Regions from separate parts of the Homo sapiens genome. Here region 2 is linked to region 1. The links come from fine-mapping of genetic effects on gene expression. A gene starts in region 1. The other region holds a variant in brackets. All regions are shown on one strand. Distances are from middle to middle.

Region 1 (5,368 bases):
CCACGGAAGCCCAATGTTTCCACGTGGTCACCACCAGAGGGAATATATTAGTCAATTACATTGTACATGGTGTATTTTATATTTTCCAACAGGGCTCCACTAAACACCTTAGCAGATGTTCCCTGAACACTGTTACCACAGCCTACATGCTGTAGAACCACTGTGAAATTTCCAACTATGCAGACAAAAGAGACCATTGGGACAGGGCTCGGGGCCAAGGCACTGAGCATGATGCTGAAATCAACTCCCTCGAGAGTCTCCCGTTTGACTCTCTTTGGTCCATTTTTGGCCAAAGACAAGGAAAGGGAGGAGTAAGACTCACAGCCGCACCTTGCGCGCTCGCAACGCCTGGTGGAAAGGCGGTGTCTTTGCAGCGGAAGAGAAAACGTGAAAAAAGGTGACCACGTGGTGTAGGAAACGTGCCTGGTTTCTCAGCTCCAAGGCTGGGCCCGGCCAGAAGTACCCGAGGTGCTGAACCCGGGTAACTGGGGAGCCCCGGGCCGCCGGGAGTTTCAGCGGCGCTGTCCGAGGTGCCAACGATGGCTGCTGGCACACTTTGCCACCCGCGGGGCGGTTGGGCGGCTTTGTCTACCGCAAAGAAACGGGAGGGCGCCTGTCTGAATAAACACGCCCCTAAGAGAGGGGCACAGCAAGGCAGCACCTGGTGGATGGGAAGATTTAGAGAACCGTAGAAGCCGAGTGAGAAAGGAGGGCCCAGCTGGGAAATCCGTAGACTGCCTAGAGGAATATTTGCAGCCGCAGCACACAACACAATGAGATCTGTCCGCTTTGTGCAGCGCACCGGCAGGCGTGACTGCAGGGACCCGACCCCTCCCCCGCCCGAAACCTCCACCCTAGCTAGATACGTTCAACTCAGGCAATGGATGGCCTGGGATCACTCTGTGAGAGTGGAGCAGGGGAGCGGGATGCAGAGAGGAGAGAGGGAGAAGCCCAGCCGGGGTTGCTGTGGGAGGATGCGAACAGCAGCAGGAAGAATATCTGCTTAGAGATGCTCCTTCGTTTCTAATGAGGGGGTGCTGCCTAGAAGCACCACGCGCCAGCCAATCACCGAGCTGCTGAGGCAGGGAACTAGAGAAGAAGGGGAAGGCCAGAGACTGGGGTTGGGGGAGTAGGGAGATGCCCAGGCCCTGGGGGAAATGAGCCGCGTGTCTGGCTAATACTAGAGACCCAAGGCAGCTCCAGCTGCCTCACTGCTGCACACCTGGACGGTGGGGGTGGGAAAGAGGGAGAATAGGGGAGAAAAGAAGGGGCCTCCATTGCAGATGCATCCCTCCCAAATCTCCCTCCCAAAGTCCCATGTCTCCAACCCCATCCCCATATTTAACGCCAGACCACTAGCTTGCCTCCTACTAATCCCCTTCACTGCCTCACCACCCCCAATTCCCAATGGCCTTGCCAGGCGTCCAATCCTTAGTGAAGAACAAGGCAGTGAGCTGCCTAATCAGCAGTCTGCATTTGGTGCACTTGATTAAACCTGCAAAGAAGCTCCTTCCATGCCTGTTCACCCTGACACCACCACCATCAGAGATGGCCCCCACCAGTGCTTTGGGGAGAGCAGTTCCTTTGGAGCTAGGGAGAGAGAGACTGCATGCACACCTCTGGCCTCAGCGGATGAATTCAGGCCCAGCCGATCCACCTGGATCCTGGATACTGGGAGAGCAATCAGCTGGGTCAAGCACTAAGAAGCAAGAGTACCCAACCAAGGACCAAGGACAGGATGGGCCTGATGAGCTGCTCTTTCTTGGCTGAGAGGAGAACTCCAAGTTTGAGCTCCTTGGGCTGTGGCAACAGAGATCACCTCCCCTGACAGACACTCACTCATGCCACTTTCAGTGGAACTTAAACTTAAGTCCCTAGAGTTAGCTGAGTCCCCACCCAAAAGCCTGTTTTATTTATTCATTTGTCTATCTGTACACAGGGTTTTGGCCCTGGGAACTTCTGAACTGATAAATCCCCTCATGGAGCCTTGACTTCCCTACAGGAAGACAGTGCGGTGTCTCCTGGTTGGTGGGGATACGGGCAGAGTGGCTGGCTTAAAGAAAGGAAAATGAGAATTAATTATGAAAGGAAGCATTGGGGCAACCCAATCTATGTAGAGGGCGGCATGTGAAGGGAGTAGGGGTGGGGAGGGGGCTGGGAATCAGACAAAGCCCAGCCCAGAAAGGGATGCACCCAGGGACACTAAAGATTTCCACATAGGAAAAATAAAAAACCAAAAGTCTTACCTTGAAAAACACTAGTGCCCAAACGGGTCTCCACGGCACCAAGCTTGCCCCTTAGATGCACCGAAGAGTGTGCTTCAGCAAAGGGGCAAATTGGCACCAGGAAGGGGTGGGGGATACATTCCATGCTAGGTACCCCCCTTCACCCGAAGAAATGCAAAGGGGGAGAGGGAGTTATGGTGGGCAAGAAAGGATATGGCCAATCGATGAGCTTCTTGGCATATTTCCTGACAATGTTATCTTCTCCGAAGATGAACAGGGATCTGTTGACGGTGAAACAGTTCTGCCGGACGGGAATGGGGTTGTACAAAGCCATAGTCCGCGCCCTCTGTGCTTTCGTCTGCTTGTAGGCGGCCGCCTGCCCCGAGGCCGGCACGGGGGTTCCTTGCCGGTTCCTGCTCTGGTCCGAGTCTCCATCGCCGGACCCTGGCCTGGCGACCACCGCCTCCCCGAAGCGAGCCATCCTGAGGTTTAAACAGACAGAAGACACACAAAGGTGATCGCGGCCGAACACCCGCACACAGCAACAAGCAGAAAGACACACGGAGACTCAGAGCCGCATCCAGACAAGCACGGGGACCACCGCCTCTGGGGAGCTCCGCGAGCTCTTCGGAGAGGCAGCAGCAGCAGCCCGCCGCTGTGAACTGTTGAATCTAAATGCAACCTCTGCGAAGCTCCATTCCTCAAGAAGGAAAAAAAAAAAAAAGAAAAAAGAAAAAAAAAGCGGGTGGTAGGGCTTGGGGGTGCCCAGTTTCTGGAGGAAAATATTTTTTTCAAAATGCCAGTGTGTGGTGGTGTTCAGGGACCAGAGAGGAGAGGGGTGGAGTAGGCTGCTCTTCAAACATAGCTCCTCTTCTGGCAGACGCACCACCTAGTTCAGGGAGAGAGGCAGGCACCGGCCCGCTAGGTAACAGTTTGGTGATTTATTGGTTGGGGGAAGGGGTGGGAAGGAGGGGAAAATGAAAACAAAAGAACTTTAAAAAAAAATAAACAAAGACGAGGACGGGGTTACGATGACATGCTTTATAACGCCAGCCCCTGCAAGTCCATCTAAGAAATTCCACCGCGAAGACTTGGGTCTTTATATCTGCCAGCAGAGACGCATCCAAAGGTTGGAGAAAGAGGGAGGGAGGTGGGGAGAGCGATATTGAGGTTCCTGCGTAAACCGCAATGCCCAAAATCTCAAAATAAGAAGTCGATCCAAGCGAAAAGGGACAAATGACTTCAAAGCTCCTGCGCTTGGGCTAGAAGTTGAGCAGCATCCAGAGAGCAGCGAAGCCTGAGTGCCAGCATCCGCCCGGAGCGCTCGCCACCGCCGCCTCCCCGGATCAGCATGCAACAGCGATCCGCGGCTGCGCCGCCGAGAGGGCGGGAGTGCGAGCGGGCGGGCGGCGAGCACCGGCGGGCGAGGAACAGGTTGCAGCCGAGCCTCGCGGCGGCCTGGCACCACACTTGTCCACAGACCGAACTTCCTCACTAACGGCTCAGTCTCCCTCTTCCCCGCAGGCAGCGCCCTCGGCGGAGCACTGGAGAAGATGCGGAAGGAGAATGGGGAGGCGAGGCAGAGGACAGCGAGCGGCGCGCAGAGGCGCAGCGAGGCGCGCAAGAGCGCTGGGAGAAGCGGGGGAGGAGCTGGCCAGGCGGGAGGGGCGGGGACGCAGCCGGAAGGCTGGAGGTTCCTGGAAGGTGAGGCTGGCTTGCCTTCTTGATTTATGTGGCCAAAGGGTAGCAGCCACCTCTGCAAAGGTCCAGTGAAGAGTCCCCTTTCCCCCAAGTAATGCCGAGAAGAGAGAGGCAGGTGCAGCCAGCGATGCGGCGGAGTCTCCGCAAGAGAGCGAGGGCCTGGCGTGGGGCGCACACGCACGCGCGTCTTGGGTCCCTGCAGAGAGGTGTCCCCAGTGCTGTGCCCTGTTCGGTGCCGGGAGCGGTGCCACGGGCCCGCCGCCGCCCTAGTAAGGTGTCGGGGCCTTTGCGCGCCTAGCGCCATGGCCGCGTCGCCGCTCCTCCGCACCTCCCAGGCTCCACGAACACGGCCAGGCATTTCCAAGTAGAGGGCAGAACCCTCTCCCCATCTCCCCACTTAGCACCTGGGAGGCCCCGTGGAGGAGGCTAGGACCTCTGGGGGTTCCACACTCTGCTGGTGGTGCTGGCTCCTGGCGGGAGCTTCTGCCCTCACGGGGCGGCCTCCCGGTTCCGCTGTAGGAAAGCCCTGCCCGACGTCTCCTGGAAGGGCCCTCCATGGTGAGTTATGGGCTAAAACTACCCTTCTCGAAATGCGAACAATCAGAAGGATCCTCCCGCCCCCCATCCTTTACTCCCAAATAAGCTCCACGGACTTTCTCAAACCCAACCCATTAATGTAGAAAAAAAAAAAAATAGAATTGGTATCTGAGCTGCAGAGGTGGGAAAGGTGGACTCCAAGCCCCAGGGAAAGAGCTCCTGTTTAGCCGCCAAGCCCTTCCCCACAGGTGACTGGTGGTTTGAACTGAGGGCAGGGACCAGCTGTCCCCTCCCATGTCCACACTAGCTGGGGCACACCGTCTTCTGTGTTTTCCTGCCTTGGCTCAACACATAGGCCTCTCCAAATCCTTCCAACCCGAACAATGGAAGGGAAGAAGGAAAGGAGGGGCTGAGGAAGGAAACAGACACTGACCAAAGCCCAGAGGTTGGAAACCATGGGTGAGTATGGCTTCACGCCTGTGAAGTGAGATTAACTGTTGAGAAGTGAGGTGATGTCTGAGTGCATGGCATGTGTGTTTCTACGGGTATGTGTCTGTCTGTGGGCAAGGCCCTGTGAGCACTGACATGTGTCTGTTGTGTGAGAATGTATGTGAGAGTGTGTGTGTGTGTGTGTGTGTGTGTGTGTGTGTGTAGGAAAATTCTCTACTGGAAATCCAAAGGAATGGTCTCAACATGTCCAGCCTGCTGCCCTTGGGGAAGGCATTTGACCTTTGGATTCAGGGGAGCCCATTTCAGGTGAAATTACTATTCAAGGTGAGTCAGCTGTAATTGTTACTTTGATTTCACATTACTGCCTTACTCTGTCCTTCCTCCTGCTTTAATCAGAGGGTCCTCTTCTGTCTGAATACCTAGTCAGTCGTGAAACGGAGGGAGGGTGGTGCTGT
Region 2 (5,368 bases), 21 kb before region 1:
ATGGGTCTATGTGGGGTCTATGATTGTTTTGGGGGGTTGAATCTTCTTCCCCTGAAAACCTGAAAGTGATAAGCACAGGCTTCAAAGTAGATGGGTTCTCAGTGCTGAGCCTGCAGGCAAGACAGGTCCTGGCAGCCATGTGCCTCCGAGGCCTCCCCACTCACAATACCCACTTGGACCATGGCAGCTCCTCCACTGCCCCTGACTCTCCACTCACAATATCCCCTTGGACCATGGCAGTTCCTCCACTGCCCCAGCTCCCTGCTTCCACACCCATACCTGCATTTTCCTAGCCAGTTAACCCAAGTATATTGCTCCCTATAAGGACCTTTAAGCTCAACTAGTCCAGAATGTCCAAGGGCAGATATGTGAGGTTTGTGGGGACACAGGCTAGCTCAGGAAGGTGTAGCCAACACCACCGGAAGATGCTCCAGGCAGCGGAATGGCTCTTGGCCCAGGTGCTGATGAGTCAAACTCCCAGTGACTGGCCAGGTATCTGGGTGGCTGAGAATTCATGAGGTCTTGATGGCTGGTGCTACCCAAGGCCCTAAAGTCTAGAATCTAAAGGTGGGAGTTTGGTAATTCACAGGTTCTAAGAAGACCCTATTCTCACTTCCTCTCCAGCCAAATCCTCTTCCCACTATCTGATGTGAGGCCCATTCACAGCAGCAATCTTCTGGCTTAAAAATATTTTTTTTTTTGCTTTACATTTTTAAAATTGTTCAGATATATATGCCCTTGAGAGGGATGTCCCTTTCAGCCTTATAGGGCATCTAGACCTCAGGATGAATTCATGGCTGCGGTAATGAAGAACCTGCAGTGAGAATGTGGAGATTCTGTGTAACTGTGGGCTAGGTGAAAGAATGGATAGTGGCAGGGAAATCTCAGGGGAGGTGAGCAGAAGAGACCATCCAAGTCTGCCTAGGCCCCAGCCACTCTCCCTTACAGCCCTGTTCTTTAAACTCTTTTCCACTTCCCTTTCTGAAGAAAGCACAAAAAAGAGGCATTTACATCTAGGTGCTTCTGCCACCACATGCAATGGCGTTTCTTCTCCTTTCCAGTCATACATCAAGACCAAGCTGAAATGCCACCTTGTCAGTGAAAGTTTCTCCCCGTGCCCCACAGCTCTTTGAATTGTGTGACTGTATTATTTCTTCTCCTATTTAAATCAAGAAACTATATCTTGAAAGCAGGAGTTTTGCTCATGTCTCTACTGGCAGTGCTTAGCAGAGCCCATGGTATATAGTAGGAGCTTAGTCAATGTTCAATGCAGGTAAGAATGAACATGAGGCATTCACTAAGGAGCCATTACAAAGACAGGGCTTTGCTCACCCACTCTGGCCTGAGCCATGGCTCCTGCTCACTCCCACCCTTGCAGGCTGCCTCCGAGGCACCACTCCCATTTCTTCCCGACAGCAAAACTTCACACCCCAAAGCAATGGCTCTGCTACATCCCCAAAGTGAAGAGCCTAGACGGCAAATAACACCCACCCACCAGTCAAGCTAGTGCCCCTCAACCTGGCAGACTGGACAAAGACATGACTTAGAAAGGTCAAAGGGAGCTCCGAGTCGCCACGGCCTCAAAGACCATCACCCTTCATGGCAACCACAATCAGGGACAAGATGGAAGTCTGTCCAGGACTCTGACTCTCTGTTCTAGAATTCAGTGACACTCATTACACTCTGTGCCTGACACTGTGCATATTTTAGGGAAGAATATCTATCCCTGGTATCCAGATTGCTTGTGTTTTGAAATCTTGAACAAATGGAGATGATGGGGCAGTAAGGACTGGGAGCCCCAGGGCAGGACCTTGCCTGCCTCACTCACCACTGTACTTGGCACACAGTGGGGCCCCGGTAACTGTTATTTTATTAATAAATTAATATTCAATTGATAAATGAATCATACAGGGAAACTAGAGCCAGAGGTATCCTTACAAAAGGTACCCACACTCTCCACACTGTATACCCATTTGAACTTTTTATACTGTCCACTGTAGACACACATGACCTATTTAAAAAAGAAAATAAACCAGCATACATGGAAGATCCCTTTCATGTTTAAAAAAAAAAAGAGAAGGCCAGGTGCGGTGGCTCACGCCTGTAATCCCAGCACTTTCAGAAGCCGAGGTGGGCAGATCACGAGGTCAGGAGATCAAGATCATCCTGGCTAACACGGTGAAACCCCATCTCTACTAAAAAAAATACAAAATGTTAGCCAGGCATGGTGGCACGCACCTGTAGTCCCAGCTACTCAGGAGGCTGAGGCAGGAGAATGGCGTGAACCTGGGAGGCAGAGCTTGCAGTGAGCTGAGATCGTGCGACTGCATTCCAGCCTGGGCAACACAGCAAGACTCCGTCTCAAAAAAAACAAAAACAAAAAAAAAGAGAAGGGAGAGAACAAGAAAAAATTCTGTCTTGCTGGAAGGATGATGAGTCTTCTCTCGGTAGCAGGGTTATTTTCACTTTCTTCTTTACTCCTCTAACCATTTTCTGAGTGTTCAAATGAGCATGTGTTCATTTATCACTACAAAATCAATTAAAGCTATATGTATCCTGAAAAGAACAAATCAACACAAAAACCCATCCCAACCTGAGAGTGAGGAGGAATGCGATGGCCAGAGAAATCAGAAAAAGACTTCGGAGAGGATTAAATGCAAGAGAATGAAGGGACCTGGCCAAAATGAGGAAATGACCATGAAACCACTTTGAAACTTGCAAAAGACATCTTCCTTCCTGCCTTCCCTCCTGTACCAGCTCACTGCTCACTAGAGGCCTCATTTCATAAACTTTACTGGCAATCTCCTCAAACACCCCTTCACTCCTCGTTCCCTCTGAGCCCATTAATGAGGACCTGTGTTGCTCCAACTCTCTTTCTAGTCTAGCAGTTTCAAGACAATCATTAGGGAAATGATAAAAATAGGTTCACTTATTGATTTATCTCCTTTAC[C/T]CAATGCTCCTTCCTTTGAATGGTTGACTTGTTTCCTTAGCAACATGGCTAATTTGAGCAGCACGACGTGGCCTGCACACCTGCCATTTGTTCATTTCCTTCTTGAAGCACAGAAAGCTGGGGCAAGGGTGGTGATGCTGGTTCTGCTGTCACCGGAGCCCTGGGGGCCTGGCCTGGAGCTGAGCTCTTCATCTGCCTGAGCCTGAAAAGCCTCCTCATCATCACCTCTCAGGTACAGATCTGTAGGTACATGCTTGGGAAGGACTTAGGCCTCAGGCAGTAAATATTGGGTGTCCCCAGGCAAACATGCATCTCTATCACCACCAGGGGGCTCATCCTGAAGACCTCTGTACTTAGCTGTCTCCTCCCAGAGCCTATGACATCCGAACACTAAGAAGGCCATGCTCTGACAGGCAGGCAGATAGAATGCTGTGCACTCTCCCAACTTCAGCCTAATGCAGAATATGCTTTTGTGGGGAGCAGTCGGTGGGCACTCAGGCACTTCCTGGAAACTCCTGGGGGGGTATAGAAGAGTCCACAGTCTGAGGGGAGGCATTCCTCAGCCTCCTTTACCCATTTCCACCCCTCACCCCAGACCCTACAGGAAGACCTGTCTCCTTTTCTCCCTTCAGTCTCATGTTTTTGGATGTCTAAATCCAAGAGATGTAACAGCCTCAGAGGATGGCATGGACACCTTCATGCATGTCTTTCCACCTCTTCTTCATGTGCACATAAATATCATCCTAATAAGTGGACTTTGACTCAAAGACAGTAACAGAGAAAGAGCCTTAACTAGTCTGTGATTCCCTATTAGCATGACACCAAATAGACATTTTACATATGAACAGGAATGAAATACAGCTATCCAAGCCTTCCGTGTAACTTCAGAATCTTCTTCAAGACCTGGAATGCAATGGAAAAAATGTAGCTTGGTAAAGGAAACCAGAGCCAGGCCTCCGACTGCAAAAGCTGTCCCAACACAGTACTCAAGAGTCAATGAAGGGTTATGACCATCCATTCCCACAGAACCAAACAAGAAATACAAAAGGACTGAAGCCTAAAATGATACCGGAATCTGAACTCCCTCTGAAAACTGTAAAGTGTTGCACAAATACAGTTACTTTCAGTATCCTACTAACTCAATCTTTCAGCATCTACTGTGGCTCAATACTTTGGGGAAAGCATCTGTTGGTGGTTACAGCCTCCAGCCCTCAGGAGTGGGCTGGCTGGCTGTAGCCATGGACTGACACAGAGGAGACCAACTCCAATAAAGGATTTAAAAGAAAATTATGGTAATGGGCCTCCAGGAAAAGAGCAAAGACATTTGGCCCAGAACCTCCTGAGAATATGGAAAGCGCATCCAAACACCAGTCCCCAGAGGAGGATTTATGAAGCTGATGGCTCTGATGCAATCTCTCCCAGTGATTAGAAGGGATATTAATCACACCCCAGGCCAGGGCTAAGAACAGGAGGGGTTGAACCATCACAGAAGTCTGGCTCCAGTTCCCACAGACCCTGATGGAAATGCAGTGAGATCATGCTGGTGAGATCATATGACCCTCGTCTGAGCCGACTGAGAAAGATACATCTGTCCTGGAGGGACGAGTAATGCCGAAGACATAAGACCTTGTGCCTAAAACCCAGACATAGCAATAGTTATGACCATCACTTCAACAGTGTGTCTGCATCCCTCATGGTCTTCCTCACCTTCCTAGAAGCAGACATTCTTACAGAAATCTCTGCTTCCTAACCTGTCTACACAAAAGGAAAATTCAAACCAGCCCTGTTCAAACAGGCCTGGCCTGGCCAGGCACAGTGGCTCACGCCTGCAATCCCAGCACTTTGGGAGGCCGAGGCGAGTGAATCACTTGAGGTCAAGAGTTCAAGACCAGCCTGGCCAACATGGTGAAACACTGTCTCTGCAATTAATACAAAAATTAGCCAGACATGGTGGTGGGCACCTGTAATCCCAGCTACTTAGGAGGCTGAGGCAGGAGAATAGCTTGAACCCAGGAGATGGAGGTTGTGGTGAGCCGAGATCATACCACTGCACTCCAGCCTGGGGGACAGGGTGAGACTCTGTCTCAAAAAACAAAACAAAACAAAAAAAGAACAAGCAAGCAAAAACAGCCCTGGCCAGTCCAGCTCCCTTCCTGGAGGGATGTTTCACATTTTCTCCAGATCATGGCATAAAGTAGAAGTCAGTATGAGGTAAAAAGATGGAGAGCCAAGAGGGCTTTCTAATGCCTCTCAGCAAGCCGCTCCACCCTGCCCAGGTGAGAGGGCCCAGGTTAAGAGATAAGCTATGGTGCAAGGAGTCTTGGCCCAGGGCTCCTTCTGGACTTCTTTGCACTCACTCCTATGGCTGCCCTGGCAGGACATGGCAGCCCAAAAGAGACCAGCCCAGAAAAGGGAATA

Alleles and levels. Positions count from the first base shown, and alleles are read on the strand shown. Sizes are in standard deviations (SD) of each study's normalised expression.
As copies of C replace T in region 2, the expression in whole blood of the gene that starts at base 2,934 in region 1 goes down (moderate effect, 0.55 SD a copy in GTEx).

What was found.
Region 2: its variant is fine-mapped to the expression of CACNA1E in whole blood (GTEx, PIP above 0.99).

What each region holds. Positions count from the first base shown.
Region 1 is chr1:181,481,083-181,486,450 of GRCh38, reverse strand. It overlaps CACNA1E (calcium voltage-gated channel subunit alpha1 E), which reads right to left and starts at 2,934. Exons shown (of 48, transcript NM_001205293.3): 1 at 2,441-2,934. The coding sequence starts at 2,706. RefSeq lists enhancers at 1,087-1,216, 2,179-2,702, 2,703-3,227, 4,030-4,159, 4,211-4,743 and silencers at 3,580-3,709, 3,750-3,879.
Region 2 is chr1:181,502,385-181,507,752 of GRCh38, reverse strand. The region is part of intron 1 of CACNA1E (calcium voltage-gated channel subunit alpha1 E); the gene reads right to left. Among named protein-coding and RNA genes, the nearest start is that of CACNA1E, 22 kb to the right of the region's middle. RefSeq lists enhancers at 2,259-2,488, 2,909-3,028. The variant C/T (reference allele first, on the strand shown) is at 2,951.